Regions from separate parts of the Homo sapiens genome. Here region 2 is linked to region 1. The links come from fine-mapping of genetic effects on gene expression. Tissue or cell type: fibroblasts. Region 1 holds a variant in brackets; the other region holds the start of a gene. All regions are shown on one strand. Distances are from middle to middle.

Region 1 (7,209 bases):
ACAAGTTGCTTCCTATTCCTCTCCACTAGCCCTTAACCATTTATGTTTTTTGCTTTGGATTCTGGTGCATTCCTCTTCCCTCCCAGACTAGGCTGCAAGCTCAGAAGGCAGAGTCAAAGTCTAATGCCTCACCCTCCCAACACCTAACACCAACAACCCCCGACTGGTCGCTTCCTCACTCACTTCCTCAAAGCTCTTTTTCTCTGAATCAGCAGGAATCACATTTTCCCGATGTTTGGGTAGATTGTTGGGAAATCTCTCCAGCATCTTGGTAGACGCAGACAGTGGGGTTTCATGGTGTCCTATGACAGGAAACAAAACCTTTAGTGAGAACAATTTCCCGAGCTGTGGTGGCACTCAATGCTAAACTTAGGCAACAGGTGCTACCCACTGAGGGGTCCACAATGCAAACTCTCAGCAGGACTGTGAGTTAGAGAAAATGAGTGGCAGTTACCAGAAAATTCCATCAAAGCAGGACCCTTATTACTTCATGGCAGAATACAGTATTCCAAGTCTCCTACTGAGGAGTGAAGAAGTATCCTTGCATGACAGGGATCAGGACATTTGGGAGGCACCAGACGCAAGGCTCGTGGGGCTGCATGGGCCCGATCCACAGGTGAAGTATGATGAGGCTTCATTAAAAGTTCAAGGAGTTCTCCTTTCAATGCTTTTTCCTGTAACATCACTCTTCTATGGCCGCCGAATTCCCATCTTGGTATTTAAATTGCTCAGGTGGAGTTCCAGTCCTACTATTATCTAAATGTGAGCTTCCATCGGGGAAAGTGGTACATTACTTGCGAGAAAGCAGTAGGACACACCTGCTAGATGGATGGGGCCATAGCTTGCTCCACGTTCATTTGCTGTTCACTACACAACTATCGCATGGCTACTGAGCATTCATTACACATTTATTGAGCATCTATTGTGTGCAAATTGCTGTAAGAGATACAAAGCTGACTAGAATAGGGAACTGGGATTTGATAGGGCTTGATAATCCATTCAGCTCTAAAAATGAGTCCACATACTGCCCCAAAGAGCCAGGTCACTGTTTCAGATTAGGCTGCCAGTAGCCTGGCTGACTTTCCTTTCTGTTCTCTGGCTATGAGCAGATCTCACTCTGACTCACGTCTCTTTCACCTTATGATCTTTCCATTGTTCCCCTAAACCTATCAAAGATTTCATGACATACATGCCAAGATGACAACAAACAGGAACTAGTCTAAGCTGTGTACATTTCTTGATCTGGAAAATTCCTCTTTGAGTTCCCATCTTTAGGTCAGTTCTCTATCTACAACATAATATCATTCTTTAAGGGAAACCTACTTTTGTTTTGAGCCACCACTAGTTTCTCTTGTGTACCAAGGAGCTCTGAGACATGCTTTGCTTGGGAGCAGGATTTCTCCACTTGTGGTCTGCCCACTTCAGACCACTGAATCAGACTTGCTGGTAGGGCCCAGGAATCCGAATGTGAGTATGTGCGGGTAACTCTGAGGCTCACTAACAAGAGACCTACGGTCTAAGAAAAGTGAGGTGTTCTTCCACATGCCACGCTGTGCAGCAGTGTCCTGCCCTTCCCACAACACCCACTCAGTGCTCAGGGTCCTACCTGTCTGGTAGGACACCTGCCAAGAGACTGCTATGGAAGGCATTAGCCTGAATCCCCCTAGTTCTTCTGTCAACCTTCTTGTAAACAGGCTTCTCCTGGAGCTGGGCCTTCACTGATATCACGCTGTACACACTGGACCAACCACTGTACAACCTTACTCATGAGACCACTAAATATTTTGTACAAATATTACCTGGTCTCCTTGATGTATTCATCTATCATTATCTCTTAGGTCCAGATTCCAGAGCAAAAAGCAGATGGCTAGGCCCTGCCCCAGACCTACTGAATCAGGCTCTCCCGGGCTTATATATGCCTAGTTAACTAAGCTCTGATGCCGAAAGCACCCAAGGTCAGGGCCATGGCTTTGGGGCAACCCACAGACCATGCCTCTCAAGCTAATTGGATCCTTGTATTTTCACGATTAATGACAACCTGGAATATCTTTAATGCTTTCCACAAAGAGAAAATGAAAGGACATATCTGGACATAGTAGGGCATATCCTTTTACTTGTGGCCCTCGTCAACAGGAGACACTGCCATAGTCTCAGTGCCATATTTTAAGATGACGAGCTTTGGAGGTCCTCAGAAGAGGCTTTCGAATTGTGGGATCCTTACACTTAATAGATTCCTTATACTTTGCTGTTTTCGCAGTTTCCTTACTTGGACAACCTTTCCATTTTAAAGGGATCTCATTTTACAAGTTAACCATGAAGACTCCCTGCCCCCATATTTTCTGTATTCTCATATATACACATTTCCTTAATTCCACTTCTTAATCACTGGTGGGCAGTCTGTGAGCCCCTTAACTGGCACATAATGCTGAGCAGCCTTGTAATTGCAATGACCTCTTCTCATTAGCTATTTTTTTCTCACCATGGGCCTATTCATACATGCTCCTCCAACTACTTCTGTTAATAAAAACGTATTATTATTTTGTCATCTCCTTTACCCGTTATTTGGTAAAAATAAAATAAAAATGGCTACAAGGAAACAGGATGAAAAAAGAAATGGACCTTGACAATCTATAAAGGAAGCGAGCAGGGCTCAAGGATACCTGGTTTCCCCCCATAATACCTGGTTACACACATCCCCACCTACACCGCACTGCCTGGCAGATCCTGCTGTTTCCTGGTCCCCACA[T/C]GCTCCCAGCTGCCCCACATCTCTTTTCCAGAGCCCCAGCCCTGACCTCTTTCTCCCCTAGTACCTGTCACCAGCAAGCACGACAGGAAGAGAACAGAGAGAAGAAACTGCACCGGCCCCTGGGTGCTCCAGCACCCGACTGACCTCCTGCCCTGCTCTGCCCCTACTGGGGCTGGGAGGTGGCAGAACAGTGAGGGATGGGGCACAGGAAGGGCAGATGGGGTTCAAGAAAACTCCCTCCTGCTCTAATGACTTGGCACACTTGCCAGGAACACAGCTCTTCTCACTTCCGCCTTCGTTTGTCACACTCACTGCCAACTCAAGAAGTGTCATCTCAACTTATCTCTCTTGGGACAGGGCCTCTAGTTCAATCCCTGGCCATTAGTGATGGCAGCAAAAACAAGAGAAAGAGGAAAAAAGGGACCTTCCCACACACCTGGGATGACACTGCCCTAGAACCACAACCAGCCCCTGACTCTGCTGCTCTCAATCCATCCTGGGATTTAATCCCTCCCGGGTCCTCAGCCCTCGCCTCTCCAACCCCTCACCCTCATGCCCACGTGGACTCCAAGTTAATTCTTCCATAGAAACAGTCTCAGTTTTCTTAACTATAAAATGGAAATGACAAGGGTACCTACCTCACACAGGGTTGCTGTGAGGAGTGAGGAAATGCATTCTAAAGGGCTTAATGTCGGATACTCACACAAGGTTTACATTAATTTAGTACCTGAGTTTTGGAACATTAAACAGTTTTCAAAAACTGACTCAGAAACACAGCTACCTTGTTGATTTTCCTTGGGGGTAAAAATGTCCCAAGGTCTCAGGGGCCAGCCGGGAAGGGCTCTGAGCACAAGGCCTTCCGAGCTCAGTACGGTGTAACTACCAGGGCCGGCGGTCGCCCACCAGGAGGCAGCACGCTGTCACCTCAGGCTACTGTGGGAGACCTGCTCTTACCTATCAGAAGCCAGTAATTCCTCAAGTAGTTGAGCTTGTTCTTGCTTTTGAGTCCGGGATCAAACTTGACGTCCGTGCTGGGCGTGATCACACACTCCCCCTTGTCCCCAATGGTGACGCCATCAGTCTGGGGCCCTTCCAGCAAAGGAAGTGTGCTGCCGCGGGGCTGTGGAGAGGGTGCAGTGAGGGTCAGGAGCCCTGGAGGGAGAGCGGGTCCCACGGCACACCATCCCAGCCACTGTCCTGAAAGGTGAGCAATTTCTAGTGCAGGGCTAGTCCAGGACAGAGCAAGACACAAAGGCCCAAAGTCTGGGCAAAGAAGCTTCTCCCTCAGGATGTGACAAGCTGCACTGATGTCTTTATGGACGTCTTTTTAGATTCTTATGTCTGGGTACTGGGGAACAAGAAGTGTGTGTGTAGAACTCCAAGAAGCTATTATGAGAAGCAGACATAAGTGAAGGAGAATGAATGGATATCTCTGTTAGTCACAATCTACGCAACCAATGGGGCGGAATAAAGTCCAGCCACACGCCCAGTGCTGGCTCAGGTGCTGCTGGAACTATGACAGAGGCAGGCGCTGTCTATTCACAGAAGCAGCCGCCCAAATCACTGGGAAGACAAGAGAGCCAACCACACAGCCCAAGCATTGTAGGGATCAGGACAAACAGCTAGGATTATGACGCCTTGGACTTTCAGAGACAGAATGCTTGAGGCAGGCTTGTGAGGCCCAAGGAGGCTCGGCGAGATTGCAAAAGCATGCAAAGGGTTTGAGTAGGGAAAAGGAAGAAGAAAGGGCATTTGAAGTGTGAGGTGAGGAGCAGCCTGAACAAAGGCCCCGGGGAAAGATGAACATGGGGCTTGTAGAAGTCAGGGAGAAGGTGCACATGGTTGGGCCACGCAACTCACATAGAGAAACTAACAGGGTGGAGGAAGGGCATCGTGGGACTGGATGAAGCAGGGCCATGAACACCAGCCTGGGGAGTTTAGATTTGATCACAAAAGCAAAAGGGAATAATCAGGGATTCCTCGGCTTTAAGAAGCTGTTTTTGTCATGTATCTTTCTTTCAAAGTAGAATGTGGCATGTGCAGAAACTGTTTTTGAGAACTTAAGATTTGTGTTTTTCATTCTTAACCTGCAGGATGCTCATGCATAGCAAAGTCATTCTTTGCTAAAATGGAACAGAAGTGGTTAGGCAGCTGCGAGCCCTCCGTAGTGGACTTACCACGACAGCAACCCCCTCGTGTACCATTGAGGGAGAGGCATAGAGGCTGGTAGAGTATTTCCCAACATACAGAGTGGGCCTAGGAGAAAAACAGATACATGCATTCCAGAGTCATTGAATTTCCAGATCCCACAGAAGGGAGTAATCATCACCCCAAATACCACCCGCAGGGATGACCACATTAACCCCCCAGACATGGAGGAACGCAGTAGGGGTGTGAAGCTAGGGGCACTGCCCTGGGAACAGGACCACAGGACTTCATCCCAGCTGTCACTCACTGCAGAAACATGGACAAGCCACCTAATGGCAAGCCTCAGCAAAATCGCAGGGCTGGACTAGACGATGCCCATGATGCCTGCAGAAAGGACTACGCCCAGTGGCCACAGAGGAGACTGAGTGCTTACTACCACCGCCGAGGCCCCTCAGATGACTCTCTACAACACACTTTCACTCCAGCGATCACTCCAGCGACCACCAGAACTACCCCCATTCTGCCTTGTGCTTTCTAAGGATCCTGGAGGTTTTACAGAACTCCTGAGAAATGGTCAGCTGCTCTACTCTGGATGCTGAGAGCAAAAGGGATGCATAAGAAATTCCAGACTTGGTGAGACTTCTGGTTCCCCAGCTGTGTAGTCTGTCCCCATGTGGGACATCAGGGAGACAGAAAATGGTGAGAGCTACACCTCCTGGCCCTTCTGCTTACTGTCAAGAGCCCACCTGGGATCGGTCATCCACTACATTATCTAAACCTCTCTCAACGAATACCTTACATTTGAATGCTGTTTTACAATCTAAACACTTGCCGGCATATTATCTTGTTTGATCTTCCACACAACTCTATATATAAAGTAGGAAACTGAGGCTTGGGGAGTTTAAGTGACTCGGTGATAGGCTATGAAGAGGGGGATGGAGAACAGAAGCCTGCTGAGTCTTGGACACACACACACACTGTAACTATTTTTTCTGATTTTTAAAATGAATATAACCTAAAAACTTAGAAAATATAGAAAGTTAAAAAAATAAATCTCTTGCATCCCTACCACCTAAGATAGATCCAAACTATACTTACACTGGCAGTCTCTTTCCTATACCTTTATTTGTGTGTGTGTGGTGGCAGGGGGAGGGTCTTGCCATGTTGCCCAGGTTGGCCTCAAACTCCTGTGCTCAAACAATCCTCCCACCTCAGCCTCTCAAGTAGCTGGAATTACAGGTGTATGCCATGGTGCCCGACACCTCCCATCCATGATTTTTATGTAATATTTAATAACTCTGAAGTGTTAATGGGTGCCCCTCAGCTCTTGTATTCTGAGGTTTCCAAATGAAACAGTCTTGGCTCTGAATATTCCTCATGGCTTCAGAGACTGCCCTGTCTTTGGCCTCCCGTGCAGGGCCTGCTACACTGCAACAGCACCAGAACACGAAGGCCACGGCCGCCCTCTCCTTCCCCGAGCTCCCAACTCACGTCAGCTTGCTCTTGGCCTCTGTCTCCTTGGGGAACGGGTACTTCCACTTTGTGATGCGCCCCACCTCCCCAGACATGAAGGTCAGATAGCGCAGGGTCTCCACAGCGACATTGATGTGCATCACCTTCCTCAGACCCTCCCGCTGCCAGACATAAAAGGCCACCACAGGGGAGGCGTAGTTTTGGATCCACAGGACGTCCCCAGATTCACTGTCCACAGTCACCACCAGCCCATCACCATTGGACACAAAGTGGGACATCTCTGTACAGATCAAATAAACAAAGCATGCTGAGTCTCACCCCATCTTGCAACCACATCCTCTACTCTTGTGGCAGGCTCTAGTCACTCAGTTAGAGGAAACAAGACTTCTGGAATATTCTCAGATCTCCTCTGAGCAATTTCACTTGTTTCCAATGAACTCGCTTAGTCTCTGTAATATCAAGACACTGAGAGCTGGCTGGCGTATAAACACAAGCCAGGATCACTCTCCCAAAGGCAATTTATTTGGTGATGTTCTTTAACACTCTATTCAATAAGTGAGAGTAAATACTGAGGAGGAAGGAGCCAGTGGAGATGCCTATTAATCTGGCATTTCATAGCAGTCACTTGAAACCCATCGATCAAACTGAAAGTCAGGGACAGCTGTGGTGGCTCATGTCTATAAGCCCAAGAATTTGGGAGGCTGAGGTAGGAAGATCACTTGAGTCCAGGACTTCAAGACCAGCCTGGGCAACATAGTGAGACCCCCGTCTCTACAAAAAAAAAAAAAAAAAAAAATTAGCCAGGTAGGTGGGGGAGTGGCGGTACGTGCCTGTGGTCCCAG
Region 2 (7,209 bases), 220 kb before region 1:
CTGGACCCTCCTCTTACCTCCCTACTGCCCAACTACTACCCCTATGACAGAAGACCCCAGAAGGGAAGCTATGGCTCCTGGGTGGCCTGTGGGAAAGAGAGCAGCTAGCACCTGGACTCTGCCAGTGGTCCAGGCACCACCTGGCAGCCAGGACTGGCTCTGGCTCCGTGTAGCCCTGGCAATCCCAAGCTGGAGAAGGGGGCTAAGATTATCCTGGGAGGCAAGGATAGAGGCCCAGGCTGAGCAGCAGGAAAGTGGGAGACAGAAATAGCTTCTTTAGATGCCTGCAGAAGGATTTCCCACCTGAGGCCTTGCTCCCTGACATTTCTGTGGAGCCCATCTGGGAGTCACCTCCACCCCCACCCGCCTCCCCATGGCTGCTGCCTGCAAGGCCTGTTTGGCAGCTCTGCCTTGCACACACTGTCCCTGGCAGCTTCACAGGGCTGGCCCCAGGGCCCAGATTATGCAACGAGCACAACCAGCCAACCAAGCCCGGCAGGGTGGAGACTTGTACCAAATCAAAGGACCCTCCCCCACCCCAGCATCATGGAGATGAGATTCTTCCCCAACCTCTTCATCCCGCACTAAACCCATGTTCCCAACACAGAGGGTCAGATTCTTGACCAGATGCGGAGATGGAAAGAAACATGACCCACAGACGTGAGGATGGGGAGAGGAGGAGCAGGGTGGGACGGAAGTGTTTGGGAGAATAAAAAGTTCAAAGTGGGGGGCTCTGGGGCTTTGGGAGTCCTGCCAAAGTCTCTCTGCATCAGGAAGAGATTAATCAGAGCTGTTGAAAGGCAAAAGACAGCCTCTTTCTCTGCCTTAAAGATTGTTCTTTCTCTGGCCTGAGATTATAGAAAAAAACTAAGTGTGGCTACAGCTGTAAGCCCAGGCCCAGACATCCCAGACTAGTTTTTCCTAGTGCCTGAGACAAAGACAGGGAAGAACTGAAGCAGTGGGTCCTGCAGAGGTGAGCGAGGGCCCTGTGGTCCCCAGGAAGCTCCCTGCTGCAGTGTTCACAAAACCTGCAGCACCACCCATCCCTCCTGGGCAGGTGCTCCGGTAACAGGAAGTCCCAAGACAAGGCCTCATAGGCAGGGTCTGGAATAGGCTCCACCCAGACATCTGCTCCAGGTTTCCTGGGCCCAGAGCCCCTGGCTCACTCAGGGCCCCAGGGGAAGGCTGCTTATAGTTCAAGTCCCAGCTGAGCCTTGCCAAGCTCCATAGGGCTTATAGGCGCTAGCAACTCCTCCCACTTCAAAAAACAAAACAAAACAAAACAAACAAAAAAAAACAACTCAGGAGTTAAAGAAAAAAAAAAAAGCAGTCCAGCACTCTGAGCCTCCCTAACTCCCTGCCTGCAGCAGGACCAGGTAGGCCTGGATCAATCCCCTGAACCCCAGATGAGGAATCCAGGGCTCCGGTGAGCGTGCTTTGCCCTGCCCCAAATGTGGCCCTGATGCTCCTGGAACCTGGGCCTGAGGGCCTCAGTTGGGGAACATACCACCCACTCTCCCATGAGTAAAAAGGATTTTGAGGCCGGGTGCAGTGGCTCACGCCTATAATCCCAGCACTTTGGGAGGCCGAGGCGGGTGGATCACAAGGTCAGGAGTTCGAGACCATCCTGGCCAAGATGGTGAAACCTCGTCTCTACTAAAAATACAAAAAAATTAGCCGGGCGTGGTGGTGGGCGCCTGTAATCCCAGCTACTCAGGAGGCTTGAGGCAGAGGATTGTTTGAACCTGGGAGGCGGAGGTTGCAGTGAGCTGAGATCATGTCACTGCACTCCAGCCTGGGCGACAGAGTGAGACTCCGTATCAGAAAAAAAAAAATTTTTTTTTTGAACTTTTTGAACTCTCTGGAGTGAACCCAGCAATCTGAGGTTTTTGTTATTTTGTTGCCCAGGCTGGAGTGCAGTGGCAGGATCATAGCTCAATGCAGCCTTGAACTCCTGGACTCAAGCAATCCTCCTGCCACAGCATCCTGAGTAGCTGGGACCATAAGCGCACACCACCATGCTTGGCTAAATTTTTTTTTTTTTTTTTAAGAGATGATGGTCTCACTATGTTGCTTAGGCTGGTCTTGAACTCCTGGTCTCAAGTAATCCTTCTGTCTGGGCCTCCCAAAGTGCTAGGATTACAGGTGTGAGCCCACCATATCCTGCCCTGGAGGTTTTTTTCTTTTCTTTTTCTTTTTTTAGGTTCCTCTGTTAACTGTGATCCACAGCTAGAACCACCCTCTGGAGGAAGGGAGGTCATCACTTCCCTTCTTTCAACTATTTGCTCAGCTTGGGCCTCAAATTCTCACTTTTCAAGTGCATCTCATGAGCCCTAACAGACAGGAACCCCTTTGTTTCCCAGATCTCAAGTCCCTTCTCCTGGCAGTCATACAACTGGACTTGGAAAGAAGGCAAATAGGATCCTCTTCAAACTCAGCCAAAGTTAGCTGGCTGGGTTCTCCTTCCCATCTACCTCTCCTGCCAGGAGGAGGAAAGCTAGTGGGATGGGAAACCCAGACTCAGGGCCATCTCCTACTTCCGCACAGCTAGCAGCCCAGGCCTAACCAGCCAGCCAGCTTGGCCTTGCCACAGGCCCAAGGCCACCCCCCACCAAAACATGTGGAATCCATCCTCTCAGGGGCTGTCCCAAGGGCACATTTCCTATGGCTTGCATGCCAAGGAAACTGGAGCGGCTTGTCTGTTCCAGGTCCTTCCAAGGCCAAAGGCCCACAGATGGTGCCCAGGCCAGGTCTCAGTGGGCAGGCCCAAGGGCTACAATGAATGATGCAGGGAGCCCTCAGCAACACCCTGGGCCCATGAATCCCCAACGGGGACAGCAAGGTGGGAGAGATGAGCCCCAGCTGGAATCCCTGGGACCAGGTCTGTCTCTGCCCATACCCAGACTCTCTTTTCTCTTGAGAAAGGAGGAAGAATGAGGAGTAAGAAGGAAAAAAAAATCCAGTCACTGTCCCTAGTTAAGCCATCTCCTTAGAAGTGAGGGCCCAGTGGGGCAGGTAGGCTGTGTATACTCCACGAGGATCCCTAAGGACCTCTGCCTGGAGACATGAGTCGAAAACAGAGGAAGCCCACAGCAAACCCGTAGATGAGCAAGAAGCCAGTGTCAAATGCTTGGGCACATGGCTTCGGACGTGGTGGAGTTAGAACCTGAAGGCCAAATAAAAATGCAGAGAGGGTGACAAGGCAGATGGGCACAGTTTCCAAGCCCTCTGGGGCAACCTGAACAGCAGACTAGAGCACTGGCAGGGTCAGGCTGAGGTCCTCACACACTGAGCAGAAGTCGCTGCTTTGCAAGGGCTTTTGAAGCTGCAATCTGAGCAGCTCTCAAAACCCCAAAGGGGTCAGGACAGCACTCTTTGAAGCAACTCTCGCAGACTCCTCCGGCCCCAGACCAGCAGGGCTCCACTCTGCACGTCCAGACTAATCAACTCCCGGACACGATGACAGGAGGCAGAAAGCCCAGAAGAGAGCCGGCCTGTGACTGGGCTGGGCCTCCCCTCAGGCCAGGCCACCACCGTCTCTGGTCTAAGCTGGAGTCCTCCCAGCGAAGGCGCCTGGCCCTGCCTCAGGAGTAAAGTCCGCCCGTGCACAAGCTGGAATCCCCTGGCCCTAGCCTCAGCGTCCCGTGCCCGTGGGAAGCCAGGCTCCTTCCTCCTTATTAGCAGCCGGGAGCCATCTCAGACACGCTAGAGCTCCGCCAGTTCCCAATCAGAAAAAACAGGGCAGACTTGGACTGGGACCAAGGCCGATGCAGGGTAACCCCGGTTTCTCAGCGAGGGCCCTTTCCCAAACTTTCTCATCACTTTCCAGCCCTCCTACCCTAGACTTCTCAACCCACCCGCCACAATTCACTGGCTCCCCAAACTCCTCCATCTCCCAGTCACTCGGAATCCCTGTGCCGCGGAAGCCCCCAGGCCTCCCAGCTGCTTCCAGCCCTCCGCTGCAGAACCTGCTTCCCCTTCCCACTTCTCCACCGCGACCCGCCGCAGCCCGAGGGTCCCGGCCCGCCCTCCACCGTCTCCCGGAGTTCCTCATGCATTCCCCAGGGCCCTCACTCGAGGCCCCTTCAGCCGCCGGCCCGGGCGCCCTCGCAGCGCCTCTCGCCCCCGTCCGCTCGCGTCCTCCTTGCTCACCTGGTACTGCGCCGCGGGGCCCGCGGGGCCCATGGGGCGGAAGGCGGCGGCCCCGGGGCCCCCCACGCCTCCTGCCGGACCCGGTCCCCGGAGCGCCGGTCCGGGCAGCATGCCGGGTCCCGCGGGGGGAGGCGGCGCTCCCAGGGCCGCAGCCACGGCGCCGCCGCCAGGGCTTAGCGGGGGCAGCGGGAACCCGCCCGCGCCTCGGCCCGACATCGCTCCGTCCCGTCCCGCGGTGCCGCGATCCGGACTCCGGGCTCCGCGTCGAGTCCACTCCGTGCTCTGTGCTCCGCGATCCGGGACTTGGCGATCTTAATTCCGGGTTCCGGGATTTGTCGATCCGGGCTCCGGGATTTCCTAATCCAAGTTCGCGAGTTCCTCACAGACCCGGTTCGGGACAGATTCCGCTCCTGCCCGGGAGATTCCGGATCCAGGATCTGCTGCGGGCCCGCCTTCCGTCCCCGGCCTCCGGAGGTTTGGCCGCCCGAGTCGAGTTACCCAGAGGCGGCTACGAACTCCCTGCCCCGCCCAACCCAGCCCAGCACTAGGCCCCGCCTCTACCTGGTGCCCAATGCTCGAGTGCCTCCTCGAATCCTGCCCCTCGCGAGACCCGCCCCCAGCGGGCACCGCCCCTAACTGCCGACCTCAGAGCCCCACCCCCCCACCTTTGGCCCAGCCTTTCGTCGGAGGGGCGGGAGCGGAAGCTGCGCGCGGAAGCGCCGAGTGAGGCGCGGGGTCAGAGGTCTAAGGTCACTTAGGGGCTTCACAGTGAATGAGCCGTTGCTACTACTCTCTCCCGGTATAGCACCCTCACCGAATTCCGCGGCCACACTCCCCGAAAATAGTTTTGTCAAGTCTCCTTTCTGCATCTTCGGCGTTAAAGACTCAACTCAGAGTCGGTAGCTGTGGCTCACGCCTGTAATCCCAGCGCTTTGGGAGGCTGAGGCGGGCGGATCCCCTGAGGTCAGAAGTTCGAGACCAGCCTGGCCAACATGGTGAAAACCCCGTCTCTACTAAAAATACAAAAATTAGCCGAGTGTGGTGACGGGCGCCTGTAATCCAAGCTACTCGGCAGGCTGAGGCAGGAGAATCGCTTGAACCTTGGAGGCAGAGGTTGCAATGAGCCGAGATCGCCCCACTGCACTCCAGCCTGGGCGGCAAGAGTGAAACTCATCAAAAAAAAAAAAAAAAAAAAAAAAGACTCAGCTGCTCTGTGGGGCAGAACAGCAGCCAACTCAACTTCCTGTAAAAGCTCATGCTGGTAGCTCGGAACTGCCAAGGGACCTAGGAGGCTCCAGACTTGACCCAGCTGGTGAACGGTCGACTTGGCCAAGGCTGAGTTCTACCGCACATTTTTAACGTGGCTCCGCCTCACTTTAAGGAAGCCTGGTACTTTACTCCCCAGAAAATGCTTCTAGTCAAAAGAAATTTGGCTTATGAGAAACCTCCCCGCAGTTTAAAAAAAGAGGTCTTTCTCCAGTATTTATAGCACTTAATTTTCAAAAATGCAGTATCTTTTCAGGTACACTGTGCTGTATCAAAGTATTCAAAAATGCGTCAGCTGTGCCAGGGAGCCTACCCTCTGATGGTCTGGATCTCCTCGCCGTGATATGGACCAGTGCTGCTTAAACTTTAATGAGCACATAAAAAACACTCGAGGCTCTTATTAAAAATGCAGATTGTGGCAGGGCCCAGGACTCTGCATTTGTAACAAGCTGCCAGCGATGCTGTTGCTTCTCAGACCACACTGTCAAGAAGCCGGGATCTAGACTTTTTTTTTTTTTTAGTTTTTTTACTATAATTGCTTTATTTTTCCAGCCCCAACCAAGTAATACTTCCTTCCTTGCATCATAGCACCCCAGATCTTTTTTACAGTATAGTTCTCCAGTGCTTTTTAGAAATTAGTTCTCCTCATGCCTCTAGTGATAAACACCGCTGCTGCTGTTTTCTTACCTCCTGAACTTAGAGATCCCACTCTATTGCCCCAAGAGTCGATAACCTGTCAGTCTGGGGACTGGCCACTGGAATTGTTAAAGTCACTGAATCATGGCCCCTCCCATCCCTGTAAAGTGGGTTAAGAGTTCATGATAAGGCAGCTAATATCCATTTCAATCCTTTTAAGCTTCTAGAACAACAGTAATTCTCAAAGTGATAGGGGCAGTGGAGAATCAGAGTCCTCTGGGAAGCTACTCCAAAATACCTCCGCCAGCCACCCCTCCAATCCAATGGCTCTCAGTATTGTATTTGAAAAATAAGCTTCCTAGGTAATTCTGATGCGACCCAGTGGGTCGCATCAGAAAACACAAGATTTTTTCTACCCTAGAAAAGGGGCAAGCTAATAAGTGCATTTAAAAGCAGATCAGCTGGGTGGAGTGGCTCACACCTGTAATCCCAGCACTTTGGGAGGCCAAGGTGAGTGGATCACTTGAAGTCAGGAGTTCGAGACCAGTCTGGCCAAGATGGTGAAACCATGTCTCTACTAAAAATATAAAAATTAGCTGGGCGTGGTGGTGCACACCTGTAATCCCAGCTACTCAGGAGGCTGAGGCACGAGAATTGCTTGAACCCAAGAGGCAGTGGTTGCAGTGAGCAGAGATCGTGCCACTGCACTCCAGCCTGGGTGACAGAGTAAGACACTGTCTCAATAATAATAAAGCAGATCAAACGGTTAAATATAACTCAGTTCCTGTCAATCCCTTGTTTAAAACCCTCCCCAGCTCCCCATTGCTCTTAGATTGAATGTCACACTCCCTCCTGTGACATTTAAGGCTCTGCAGGACCTGGTCCCTGCTTACCTCCTTGGGTTCATTTTAAATCACTGCCTTTGGCTCTCCAAGCATTGGCCCAGATGGTCTCCTTGCAGTTTTTCAAACTACCCATCCCCTTCCCATCTCAGAGCCTCTCTGTTCTCTCACACCCTACTTCCCACCAAGTGATTATCACAGTACATCATTACTTAAGTGTGTGCTGATTTACTGTCTGATGTGGCTCACCCACTAAAATATAAACTCTACGAAGGCAGGATCTTTTTCTCTCTCAATTTATCTTTTTATTTTA

The links. PIP is the estimated chance that this variant, and not a neighbour inherited with it, causes the effect.
Region 2: SMARCD2 starts here. The variant in region 1 is fine-mapped to the expression of SMARCD2 in fibroblasts (GTEx, PIP 0.95).

Annotation. Positions count from the first base shown.
Region 1 is chr17:64,060,286-64,067,494 of GRCh38, forward strand. ERN1 (endoplasmic reticulum to nucleus signaling 1) reads right to left here. Exons shown (of 22, transcript NM_001433.5): 8 at 6,386-6,647; 9 at 4,924-5,002; 10 at 3,701-3,866; 11 at 184-302. Among named protein-coding and RNA genes, the nearest start is that of ICAM2, 43 kb to the left of the region's middle. RefSeq lists enhancers at 2,729-2,798, 3,809-3,858. The variant T/C (reference allele first, on the strand shown) is at 2,747.
Region 2 is chr17:63,838,307-63,845,515 of GRCh38, forward strand. It overlaps SMARCD2 (SWI/SNF related BAF chromatin remodeling complex subunit D2), which reads right to left and starts at 4,379. Exons shown (of 13, transcript NM_001098426.2): 1 at 4,153-4,379. The coding sequence starts at 4,368. RefSeq lists enhancers at 983-1,277, 3,302-3,381, silencers at 983-1,277, 4,102-4,331, 4,702-4,871 and a cis regulatory region at 5,981-6,370.